Linked DNA regions of Homo sapiens: regions 1 and 2 are each reported to be linked to region 3. Evidence: microRNA targets listed by miRTarBase, many of them from high-throughput screens and not tested one by one. Region 3 holds a microRNA gene; each other region holds the end of a gene's coding sequence.

Evidence for each region. The annotated mature microRNA hsa-miR-4438 reads CACAGGCUUAGAAAAGACAGU and lies in region 3 at 2,598-2,618, shown strand. An mRNA with a match to its seed (bases 2 to 7 or 8) in the 3' UTR can be bound and repressed. Matches are read on the target gene's strand: a 7mer-m8 pairs with bases 2 to 8, a 7mer-A1 pairs with bases 2 to 7 and ends in A, and an 8mer does both.
Region 1: miRTarBase lists RAB42 as a target of hsa-miR-4438. Seed matches in the 3' UTR shown: 7mer-A1 at 3,521-3,527 and 7mer-A1 at 3,386-3,392.
Region 2: miRTarBase lists TTC38 as a target of hsa-miR-4438. Seed matches in the 3' UTR shown: 7mer-m8 at 717-723.

What each region holds. Positions count from the first base shown.
Region 1 is chr1:28,593,733-28,597,839 of GRCh38, reverse strand. RAB42 (RAB42, member RAS oncogene family) reads right to left here. Exons shown (of 2, transcript NM_001193532.3): 2 at 2,391-4,107. The coding sequence ends at 3,723. Among named protein-coding and RNA genes, the nearest start is that of RAB42, 3.5 kb to the right of the region's middle. RefSeq lists an enhancer at 3,847-4,107.
Region 2 is chr22:46,292,263-46,296,369 of GRCh38, forward strand. TTC38 (tetratricopeptide repeat domain 38) reads left to right here. Exons shown (of 14, transcript NM_017931.4): 14 at 529-1,746. The coding sequence ends at 622. It overlaps GTSE1-DT (GTSE1 divergent transcript), which reads right to left. Exons shown (of 1, transcript NR_024009.1): 1 at 2,881-4,107. Among named protein-coding and RNA genes, the nearest start is that of GTSE1-DT, 2.3 kb to the right of the region's middle.
Region 3 is chr2:213,755,525-213,759,744 of GRCh38, forward strand. It overlaps MIR4438 (microRNA 4438), which reads left to right and starts at 2,543; the gene lies at 2,543-2,635. All of the region lies in intron 10 of SPAG16 (sperm associated antigen 16), which reads left to right.

The DNA.
Region 1 (4,107 bases), not on the chromosome of region 3:
AGATCGAGACCATCCTGGCTAACATGGTGAAACCCCATCTCTACTAAAAATACAAAAAATTATCTGGGCGTGGTGGCGTGCGCCTGTAGTCCCAGCTACTCAGGAGGTTGAGGCAGGAGAATCGCTTGAACCCAGGAGGCAGAGGTTGCAGTGAGCCGAGATTGCGCCACTGCACTCCAGCCTGGGTGACAGAGCAAGACTCCACCTCAAAGTAATAATAATAAGCCTCTGACGGACCAGGCACGGTGGCTCATGCCTGTAATCCCAGCACTTTGGGAGGCCGAGGCAGGCAGAGTACCTCAGTTCGGGAGTTCGAGACCAGCCTGGCCAACATGGTGAAACACTGAAAATACAAAAGTTAGCCTGGTGTGGTGACACACACCTGTAGTCCCAGCTTCTTGGGAGGCTGAGGCAGGAGAATCGTTTGAACCCAGGAGGCAGAGATTGCAGTGAGACGAAATCGCCCCACTGCACTCCAGCCTGGGCGACAGAGCAAGACTCTGTCTCAAAAAAAAAGAAAGAAAATTGATGAAGGAGACCAGGTACAGTGGCTCACACCTGTAATCCCAGCACTTTGGGAGGCTGAGGCAGGAGGATTGATTGAGGCCAGGAGTGTGAGACCAGCCTGGGCAACATAGTGAGACCCTGTCTCTGCAAATAATTTAAAAGTTAGCTTTGTGAAGTGCACCTGTAGTCCCAGCTACTTGGGAAGCTGAGGTGGGAGGATCACTTGAGCCCAGGAGGTCGACATTGCAGTGAGGTGTGATTGCATCACTGCACTCCAGCCTGGGCAACAGAGCGAGACCCTGTATCTAAGGAAAAAAAAAAAAAAACGATGAAGGAATGAAAAGATACCCTAAAGCAAGTAATTTTCCTCTCCTGGCCCCAGCTTTCTTATCTGTGAAATGGGGATGATTGTGCCAACCTCACCACGTCACAAGGATGAATAAGGATGTTTAAAAAGAAGAGGCAGGTCATGTGCAACAACATGGATGGAACTGGAATTATAAGTGAAAAAAGCCAGGCACAGAAAGACAAACTTTTTACATTCTCACTTACTTATGGGAGCTAACAATTAAAACAATTGAACTCATGGAGATAGAGTAGAATGATGGTGACCAGAGGCTGGGAAGGGTAGTGGTGGGGGGAAGTGGGTATGGCTAATGAGTACAAAAACATAGTTTTTATTTTTATTTTATTTTTATTTATTTGTTTTTTGAGATGGAGTCTCGCTCTATCGCCCAGGCTGGAGTGCGGTGGCACGGTGTCAGCTCGCTGCAGCCTCTGCCTCCCAGGTTCCAGTGATTCTCCTGCCTCAGACTCCGCGGTAGCTGGGATTACAGGTACATGCCACCATGTCCAGCTAATTTTTGTGTTTTTAGTAGAGACAGGGTTTCACCAATGTTGGCCAGGCTGGTCTCGAACTCCTGACTTCAGGTGATCCGCCCACCTCGGCACTCAGAGTGCTGGGATTACAGGCGTGAGCCACCACATCCAGCCAAAAATGCAGTTAAATAGAATGAATAAGATTTAACATTTGATAGCACAACAGGGTGACTACAGTCAACAGTAATTTATTGTACATTTAGAAATAAAAACGTATAACTGGATTGTTTGTAATACAAATAAAATATAAATGTCTGAGGTAATGGATATTCCCCACCCCCCACAAAATAAAACAGGTGAATTTTTATGGGTTTAAAAAAAAAAAGAGGCAGGACCAAGTGCACAGGAAGACCCCTCAGCCCCCTCTCCATGGGGAGGAAGCTAAGAAACTCATTCTGAAAACCTTCTAAGAACCCTAGGAGGGAGGGATTATCAGTCTCATGTTACTGACTGAGGAGGAAACCAAGGCTCAAGGAGGCCAAGTAACTAGCTCAAGGTCACAAAAGAGAGTTAAGTGACTATGCTTTTTTCTTTTTTTATGAGACGGAGTGTTGCTCTGCCACCCAAGTTAGAGGGCTGGAGTGCAGTGGCGGGATCGTGGCTCGCTGCAACCTCTGCCTCCTGGGCTCAAGCAATTCTCATGCTTCAGCCTCCTAAGTGCTGGGATTACAGGCATGAGCCACCACACCCAGCTAATTTTTGTATTTTTAGTATAGACAGGGTTTCGCCGTGTTGGCCATACTGGTCTCGAACTCCCAACCTCAAGTGAACTGCCTGCCTAGGCCTCCGAAAGTGCTGGGATTACAGGCGTGAGCCACTGCACCCAGCAAAGTGGCTGTGCTTTTTGCTACAGCACAATGATACCCACTAAGCCCTACACCTGCTGAGATTCGGCCTAACATAAACAGTGTCTCTTCCATGAAGCCTTCCCTAATTGCTCCCAGGACATTCCCTGCCTAGCAGTTCCCATCATAGGTTAGGTTACCAGGAGGCAGATTCTGAGATGGAGATGAGTGTGCAGATGTTTATTAGGGGATATTCTTGAAATGGATACCTGTTTGGGGAAGAAAAGGAAGCAGGATTGGGCAAGGGGATAACTTGGCTATGATGTCACAACAGTGTCCTCAATGAAGCCCACAGAGACTGATAAAGTTGGTTTTGACTTTCAGAGTTGTCCAGAGCTGGGGCAAGAGGGAGTCCTTTAAGGCCCCCCAGGAGATGAACTTTGGATACAAGCTGCCCTGAAGGGAGGGCCTTTCCCAGAGAGTGGGGCAAGCTGAAGTCCATCATCCAGTGGCACTCCAGCAGCTGGGGAGAGGGTTGATGGGTTCCCCAGCCAGAAAGGGGGATCTTGGTGGCTCATCACAGTGGCCACTGTGTGCCCAACATAGTTGCTACACATTCATGTTCATCCCAGCCTCCAACATCCATTTTTCAGCCCCTGGGCCTGGTCGGGGGGGCATTGGCCAGCAACCCTGGGTTTGACGTCACATATTAATCCCATGCCCAGAATCATTTTAGCCTGAGGACATAAGAAGCCTCCAAGCCAAGCTCCCCCTGGAATTCCCCGCACCTGCCTTTGCCCATGCATCAGCTTCCTGACGCTGGCTTCTCAGTGTCTGAGCCCAGGAATGCTGCCAGAGTGGCCACATCGCAGCCAAGAAAAAGGGAGTGGGAATGAGAGCTTTTGTCATTCAATTCACAGCGCGGCAGGCTCTGGGTGAGCACATCCTGTCCACTGTCTCATTTGTGGTCACCACCTCCCTTCAAGGTGGGATCTTTTATGAGCCCCATCGATAGATAGGGACACTGAGGCTCAAGGACAGGAAGTTGCACATCTGGTCTCTCAGGCCTTTCTTTTCTTTTCTTTTTTTTTTTTGAAACAGAGTCTCACTCTGTTGCCCAGGCTGGAGTGCAGTGGCGCAGTCTTGGCTCACTGCAATCTCTGCCTCCCAGGTTCAAGCAATTCTCCTGCCTTAGCCTCTGGAGTAACTGGGATTACAGGCATGCACCACCACGCCTGGCTAATTTTTGTATTTTTAGTAGAGACAGGGTTTCACCATGTTGGCCAGGCTGGTCTCGAACCCCTGACCTCAGGTGATCCACTGTCCTTGGCCTCCAAAAATGCTAGGATTACAGGCGTGAGCCACCATGCCTGGCCATCAGAACTTTCTTTTCTGTAGAAAGCCTCGACTCCAAAATCCAGGAAGCATGACTGTGTCAGGATACTGTTTATATGAACCCTTCTGTCATTTGTCCTCCAGAGAGATATTAACACTCCCCATCCCACCAGGTGGGCTAAGGCTGGGACTGCTTTAACCCTTTCTCTCCTAGAGTCAACACTGGCATGGGCCTGAGTGCTGCTTCCTGCTGGGGGACCTGGGGATTTGGGTCTTGTGGATGAGCCGGACACCCCCCCAGCCCTCTTCTAGCTTGATGTCCCCCTGCTGCAGGGCCTGCTGGATAGCATCAGCGAGGGTGTCAAAGGCCAGGTCCACATTGCAGTTGTTTTTAACCGAGGTCTCCACGAAGGCCATGCCCAGGGAGGCAGCTAGCTCCTCGGCCTCCTGGGCTGAGACACAGCGGGTGCTCTGCAGGTCACTCTTGTGGCCAACCAGCAGGAAGATGACCTTGTCCGGGCCCTGAGTGGCCATGACCTCCTGGTGCCAGTCTTGGATGTGTTCAAAGGACTTCCTGTTTGTCACATCAAAGACCAGCAGG
Region 2 (4,107 bases), not on the chromosome of region 3:
AAACTCAAACTCCTGGGCTCAAGGAATCTTCCTGCCTCATCCTTCCATCGTGCAGGGATTACAGGGGTGAGCCACCACACCTATCTCTTCTTATAAGGGCACTAATCCCATTCACAAGGGCCCCACCCTCATGACTTAATCACCTCCAAGAGGCCCTGTTCTTAATACCATCACCTTGGGCATTTGGGCTTCAACATATACATTTAGCCTGGACACAGACATTCAGTCCACAGCAGGGTCTTTACCTCAAACCGTACCTGGGTCTTCTCTCTTCAAACCTGGGTTTTCCCCACTGCCACCTGTTGTGCCCCATCTCGGGTGTGGCTTCCTGCACTGGAGGTCTGTGCCCTCCCATCCTCACCTCTCCCCAAACTGAGGCCAGGCCTCCTGCCCCTGGGCCTTGGCCCTTGCTGTTCCCTCAGTGCCGCAGTCTAGCCTGCCTGTGTTCTGCCTTGGGACCAAGGGACCACCAGGCCCCACATCCCTCTAGAAGGTTCTGTAACAGGACCTCTGTGTCTGTTTCCACAGGAGCCTTCTGATGGAGCGTGATGCCTTGAAGCCCAACTCGCCCCTGACCGAGCGGCTCATCCGCAAGGCAGCTACCGTCCACCTCATGCAGTGAGCCAGCCTGGCCGCCTCCACCCTGCAGAACCTCAGTGGTGGCGTCACTGCGTCCAGTCAGCTGCTCCACCGGGTTAGGGTCAGGAGACGGCCAGAGCCTGTTTGTTAGGGCTGTTAGAGGGTGATCTTCAGTTTTACAGGAAGTGGGTCACGGGTTAATTTTAAATGTGATTCCGAATCTCCTTTCAGTCCTCGAGAAGGGCCAATGAGCATTTTTCAGCAGTCACAGCCAGTGTGAGTGCTGCTCTTTCCACCTGCCTTGCAAATTCTGTTTCCCAGGGGAATGTGTCTACTGCCTGGTGGTTCAAAGGTTGGAAGGCAGGGCAGAGGTGGGGGCTGATTCTGCTGGGACAGGTCTTCCAGAGGCAGCCTCCCCCCACTGCCTGTCCCCGTCCCCACCAGGCTGCCCTTGGGATGGACCTTTTCATTCTTTTCTTTATATTCTAGACAGTCTCTGTTGTCTCATTGTGTTGCTGTCCCATTTTTCAGGTGAGGGTACCGGGGTAGGGGAGTGGCCTGCCCAGGGTCACACTATGAGAGGCCCCCACCTGCTGCCTTTGGACGCAGCCCCCTGCTGCTGCATCCACCACCCTTCTTACAGATCAGCGCGCACATGGGGTCCTTCTGCTGTCTCTGGGGCGAGTCTTGGAGCCCCCTGGGGGGCTCTGTTGGTGCTGATTTGGACCCGTTTCTCTTTTTAAACTGCACATCATAACAGGGCTTCATGTCGAGCATGATTTTAATCATAAATGCACTTCTGAGGTGCAAGGATTGAGCTCAGAGCTGCTCTGTTGTGGCAAAACCCAAAGTGCTGTGATGTGTGGCTGTGACAAGCCTGGAGCGGGTCCTGTGAGCGCCGCCTCTGTCTCCTGCTTCCCCACTGAACGCCTGCTGAATGTGCCGCTGACTCAGCTGTGCTGCTTTCAGCCCTCCTGTGAGGGGCGGTCCCAGTGCACAGATGTTTTTCAAGTTCCTCAGTTTGTACTGAAATTAGGGATTCATCAGGGCAGGAAGCAGGCAGGCCTCTCAGAAGGGAGAGGAGGCCTCCAAATCTATTGAGTCCCCACAGTTTGCTCAAGCCCAGGCAAATTTCTGTGATTAAAATGAATTCATCAGTTCCTCCAAGTCTTTGAGCATCTGTGGTGCAGGCCTGGGGCTGGGTCCTGGGGAGATGGCTTCTCCTTGAACTTAAGGTAGGTGGGGCAGGCCAGGCGCAGTGGCTCACGCCTGTAATCCCACCACTTTGGGAGGCTGAGGTGGGTGGATCCCCTGATGTCAGGAGTTCGAGATCAGCCTGGCCAACATGGTGAAACCCTGTGTCTACTGAAAATACAAAAATTAGCTGAGCATGGTGGCACACGTCTGTAATCCCAGCTACTCGGGAGGCTGAGGCAGGAGAATCACTTGAACCTGGGAGGCAGTGATTGCAGTGAGCCAAGATCGTGCCATTGCACTGCAGTCTGGGCAACAGAGCGAGACTCCCATCTCAAGGGAAAAAAAAAAAAAAGTAGGTGGGGCATCTAGTCAAGAAAATGGGAGGTCGGGCGCAGTGGCTCACGTCTGTAATCCCAGCACTTTGGGAGGCTGAGGCAGGTAGATCACGAGGTCAGGAGATCAAGACCATCCTGGCTAACACGGTGAAACCCCATCTCTATTAAAAATACAAAAAATTAGCCGGGCATGGTGGTGGGCGCCTGTAGTCCCAGCTACTCGGGAGGCTGAGGCAGGAGAATGGCGTGAACCCGGGAGGCAGAGCTTGCAGTGAGCGGAGATCGCGCCACTGCACTCCAGCCTGGGCGACAAAGCAAGACTCCGTCTCAAAAAAAAAAAAAAAGAAAGAAAGAAAAGGGGTAATTATAGTAGTATTTCCAGAGAGGCGCCTTCTCTACCCAAGAACTAGGGACACATCCTAAGGGGAGCCTCCTTCCCCTCTCCTGGTTCCAAGCAAGAAGACATGACTTGGCTGTGCAATTGGGAACCCTGGTCCCTCCTCCAGGAAGCCTTCTACCCGCCAACCCCCACTGCAGGCTGGTGAGGGTGCTGCCTCTGTGCCCCTCAGCCCTTGGCACTTGCCCTTGCTCTTGCACCCCTGCCATGACCTCTCCAGGTCAGGGACAGCATCTGTCCCCAGCATCACCTGGCACATGGCCTGCACTGAGTAGCTGTCAGTGAAAGTTGGTGAATGAAGGCATAAATAAATGAAGTCAAACTCTGTATTAGGCCTTCTTGCATTGCTATGAAGAAATACCTGACGCTAGGTAATTTATAAAGAGGTTTAATTGGCTCACAGTTCTGCAGGCTTTTCAGGAAGTATGGTGCTGGCATCTGCTTCTGGTGCAACCTCAGGAAGCTTAAGATCATGACATAAGGTGATGGGGAGCCAGTATATCACATAGTGAGAGCAGGAGTAAGAGAGAAGGGGAGGTCTTAGACTCTTAAATAACCAGATCTTGTGTGAACTAAGCAAGAACTCATCACCAAGGGGATGGTGCTGAACCATTCATAAGGGATCTGCCCTCACGACCCAATTACTTCCCACCAGGCCCCACTTCCAACATTGGGATCACATTTCAACATGAGATTTTGAGGGGACACACATCCAAACTACAGCAAATCCTATTGGGGGCAGAAATGAATCTGCCATACATAGGCCACACCTACTATGTGCTGACATGATACAGGGAGAGGAGTATCAGGAATGACTGTTGGGGATCCCTCTGCCATTCTCCCATGAGCAGACATCCCCAGGATGAGCTGAGGGGAATGCAATGAGCAGGCCAAACTCTTTCCAAGCTGTTTGACCACACCCACCTACCCCAGCACTCTCAGCCCCTGCCTGGTGCCCTGTGCTGAGCTGGGTGAGGCTGGGGAGACTGGTGAGTGAGGGCTGCCCTGCCCTTTTTGAGCCCCCAGTCTTCTGGTGAAGGAACATAGCAACATGGAGTGATTGGTATGGATGATGCAAAACCAGGGACATGGGACCCAGAAGTGCCCGAGCCAGCCTGGAAGGCCTCTGCCCTGGGCCCCGGGTGGCTGTTTGCTGCACAGCTCTCCCCACAGCCTGCCCCAAATAAACAGCTTATCTTCGTCCCTGAAAATGGTGCTCTCGAGTTCCATCCTTTTCAGAGCGGGTCCTCCCAGACTCCTCTTCCTGCATCCTCCTCCATCCCGCTTAGTGACACTTTGCCGTGGGTGGAGCCCCTCATTTGATCCTCAAGCCCCCGAGGTGGGTATTATACCTCGTTCGCAGGCAAAGGCTCAAGCGAGGTCAGTCTTAAGTTGCTGCCCACTGACCCGTCTACCAGTCCTGTCCTTGCGTCTCCATGGCTCAGGTCAGGGTTATCCTATCTGCTTCCCACCTCTCTCCAACACATGCACTCCCCAAGGCAGGCTCCATCACCGGGCCCCAGCCCCTGGCTCTCTCCTCCAACGCAGCTCCCCAGCCGGCCTGTAAAACCGAGGACAGGCTCCCGCCACGCCCTCGGC
Region 3 (4,220 bases):
TACATTGCACTTTTTTTGTGAAAGATAAACTACTCTTTTTTATCATTTCATTTTAATGTGTTTCATGTACTGTCCTAGGCACAAGGAATAGAATCGTAACAAGGACAGGGTTTGCTTTTGTAGAGCATAGATTCTAATGGAGAAGATAGAAAGTTAAAAAGCAAACAGAAATTTCAAGCTGATGATAATGATGACTGAGATGATAGCTGTCACAGTGAAGATGATAGGCAGTGGACTTTAGTAGATATTAGAAAGATATACCCAAGAGCACTGCATGAGATATGTAACTAATAGAGAGGAATCTGTAATAACTCAAGAAAATAAAGTTCTGTGACCAAATTATTCAGACATATATGATAAAATATTATAAAATAGTAGAAAAGAATATTTGCAGTCCCTGTGGCTGCATTTAACCATCTAAATATATCAATATCTATATACCTATATATGAAAATCCCTATCTAATGAAATAGTTTAAAAATCTTCCCAAGATTATGCAGCTACTTAAATGGCTGAGTAGGACTAGATCTGCAGACCCCTGAGGCCAGCCTCAGATATCAGTCAGAGTGAACATAACAAATCAAAGTAGTGTCCTTCCACAGAGGAGTTAAAATATTTAAACATAAGTAATTTTAGCAATCCAATAGGTGTTAAAAAAAAGAAAAAAGTCTATGGGCCAGGCACGATGGCTCATGCATGTAATCCTAGCACTTTGGGAGGCCGAGGCAGGTGGATCACCTGAGGTCAGGAGTTCAAGACCAGCCTGGCCAACGTGGTAAAACCCCGTCTCAAAAAAATAAATAAATAAATAAAAATTAGCCAGGTGTGGTGGCATCCTCCTGTAGTCCCAGCTATTCGGAAGGCTGAGGCAGGAGAATTGCTTGAACCTAGGAGGCAGAGGTTGCATGCAGTGAGCTGAGATCACACCACTGCACTCCAGCCTAGGTGACAGAAAATAAAAATCTATGCCCAGATAAATCTTTAGACTAATTGAGCAAGGCCTTTGCTTATACATCTTTGGTGTACCATAGGTTTGGATTTGTAGCTGTAGACTTTAACTTTTGCTTGTCTATAGCCACTGCATTACAAAGATGCAAATACCAGACTTTTCCAAACATGTTAATATGGGATCTCTGGGAGCGGGAACCCCCTAAATGGCTAATGTATACCAGGCCAATTAAAATTTAACGGCCTAGGATATGTGTGGGTATGCATGTGTATTTATTTAAAAAGACACTCAAATAGTTTTTTTTTATATGAAGAAAGTAAAGCTTTGACACTGAAATTAAATGATGTAATAACTGTTATATTCAGCTAATATCTCAATGATGGCTTTGAGGCAGTTGATAGTAGATAGCTTTTTTAAAGAAGTGTTTTTGAATGTTTAGCATATGAAACCCTTATGGTGTTGTCTTTATAGAGCAAAGAGGGAATAAAGAAATGGAATGTAAAAAATCCTAAATATTCCACATAAAAAAGCTTACTAGAATTAATAAATGTATTCAGCAAAGTTGCAGGACACAAAATCAATATGCAAATATCAGTTGTGATTTCATATACTAACATAAATCTGAAACGGAAATTTTTAAAAATTGGGTTAAAATAGCATCAAAAATACATAGAAATATAAACTTAACAGGAGACTAAAGACTTGTTCTCTGAAAACTACAAACATTTCTAAAGAAAATAAAGATGGTAATAAATAGACATATATATTCATGAATTAGATGACTTAATATTGTTGTCCATACTACTTAAAGCTATCCACAGGTTAAATACCATCCATATCAAAATACCCATAGCTGTTTTTTTTTTCTGAAATAGAAAAAGCAATTCTAAAATTCATATGCAACCGCAGAGAACCAAAAAGAGCCCAAACAATCTAAAGAACAAGCTGGAGGTCCTGCACTTCCTGACTTCAAAGGATATTACAAAATTACAGTAGTTAAAACATTATGGAGAAATAGTTATAGAAATATGGTGGAGTAGGAAGCACCAGGAATCTGTCTTCCCACCTAGAGAACAATTGTACTGGCAGAATCTGTCTGATATATAACTATTTTGGATTTTTGACATCTACTAAAGGCTTGCAACTTCTAGGGGAAAGCTTGCATGGCGAATTATGATTAATTTCAGTCAATTTCAGCACTTAACCACAGTAGTAGCTACCCATTTCCCACAGTCACCCCTGTAGCAGGCAGCTGTGCACATGTTACTGGAGCAGTCTGCACAGAGCATGCAGGAACCAGAGTGGGCAAAAAAAGGACCTGTCATCCAAATATCGGCAATCTTTGCTCTGATTGCTGATTGCTGTTTCTGGTCACAAAGATGGACGCAAAGAGGTGAGTGGTTATTGTTGCACCTCTATCCATTATTGCAAGCCCCTCCCTGCTGGCTGAAGTGACTTCCAGAAGATTAAAAGGGCCAGTGCCCTTCTCCTACTTTATTTTTCTGTTTTTCCCCCTTTGACAGCTAGACATTAAAAAGTAGGGCATTCAAAGTAACTGCACATATGGTGACAATCAGAAAATGACTAAGTTACTAAGTGTAAACTTAAGGACTGTCTTTTCTAAGCCTGTGCCTTGCCTTTCCTTTGGCACAGGCTTAGAAAAGACAGTCTTTAAGTTTACACTTCAGACTGATTCTTGGCACAGAGATAGCCTACAACAGAATCCTCTTATGACAATATAAAAAGCAAAATCATTGACTGAAGTAACCGCAAACTCTCAGTAAGAGGGAGAATCTAATTTTTAGAGTTACTATGTTATTAGATCCAAAATCACAATTCATACAAAAAATTAAGAAACTATGTCTTGTCCAAAGGAAAATATGAAATCCCTAAAATGACTTGATGGTGGATCTGCTACAGAGGGACTTTAAAATAATTGTGTTAAATGATCAAAGAACTACAGGAAGATATAGAGAAAGTCAAGAAAATGATATATGAACAAAATGAAAAAAATTCAATGGATAGGAAACCTCACAAGAAGTTAAAAAAAATTGGGAGCTGAAAAGTACAACAACTTAAATAAAAAATTTACTAGAGCGATTCAAAGGAAGATTTGAGCAAGCAAAGGAAACAGTCAGTAAACTTGAAGATAGGACAATGGAAATCAAGGAACAGAAGGAAAAAGAATTGAAAAAAGTAAACAGAGTCTAAGGGACCTGTGTGACACAATCAAGGAGTCACAGGAGGAGAGGAGAAAGAGAAGAGAAAACTTGAAGAAACAACGGATAGAACCTTTCCAAATCTGATAAAAGACATTAATATAAACATTCAAGAAATCCAACAGAATTCAAGGAAGATGAACTCAAAAAGACATAAACTGAAATACATTATAATCAAAGCTTTAAAAGGTGGAGACAAAGATAGAATCTTAAAAGCAGCAGAAAAACATCAATATATTACTTATAAGGAATAATCAGTAAGATTATCAGTATATTTCTCACCAGAAACGTTGCAGGCCAGAAGGCAGTGGGCTGACATTCGAAGTGCTAAAGAAAAACAAAAACAGAAAACATTATCAAACAAGAATCTTATATCCAGCCAAACTGTCCTTAAAGTGAGGGCGAAATTAAGACATCCCCAGGAAAACAACAGTTGGGAGAGCTTGTTACCATTGGACCTGACTTGCAAGAAATCCTCCTGCAGAGTGAAATGAGAAGACACTAGACAGTAACTTGAAGTTGTGTAAAGAAATAAAGATCTTAATAAAGGAAAATACATAGAAAATTATAAAAGCTTATATTATTGTAACAATACTTTTTAACTGCACTTTTCGTGTTCTACATGCTTTAAGAGGTTAATATATATATATTTAAATTTGTATAAAAGTTCATATTATGCTTTGTAACTCCAATTTTGTTTTGTACATAATTTAAGAGACTAATGAATTTAAAATACTTACATGTTTATATTTTTGTATAATACATAAAGATATAATTTTGTGACATCAAAAATTGAGAGGGTGGGGGAATGGAGCTTTTGAAGGAGCCGAGTTTTTATATATTATTGCAGTTATGGTGGTACAAATTTAAATTAGAATGTTATATATGCAGGATCTAAAATATAATCCCTATGGTAACCACCAAGAAAATAGCTATATACAAGGAAATGAGAAAGAAATTTAAGCAAATCACTAAAGAAAATAAAATAGACAACTAAATATAAAAGATAGTAATGCAGGAAATGTAGGGAAACATCTATAAGCTATAACGAA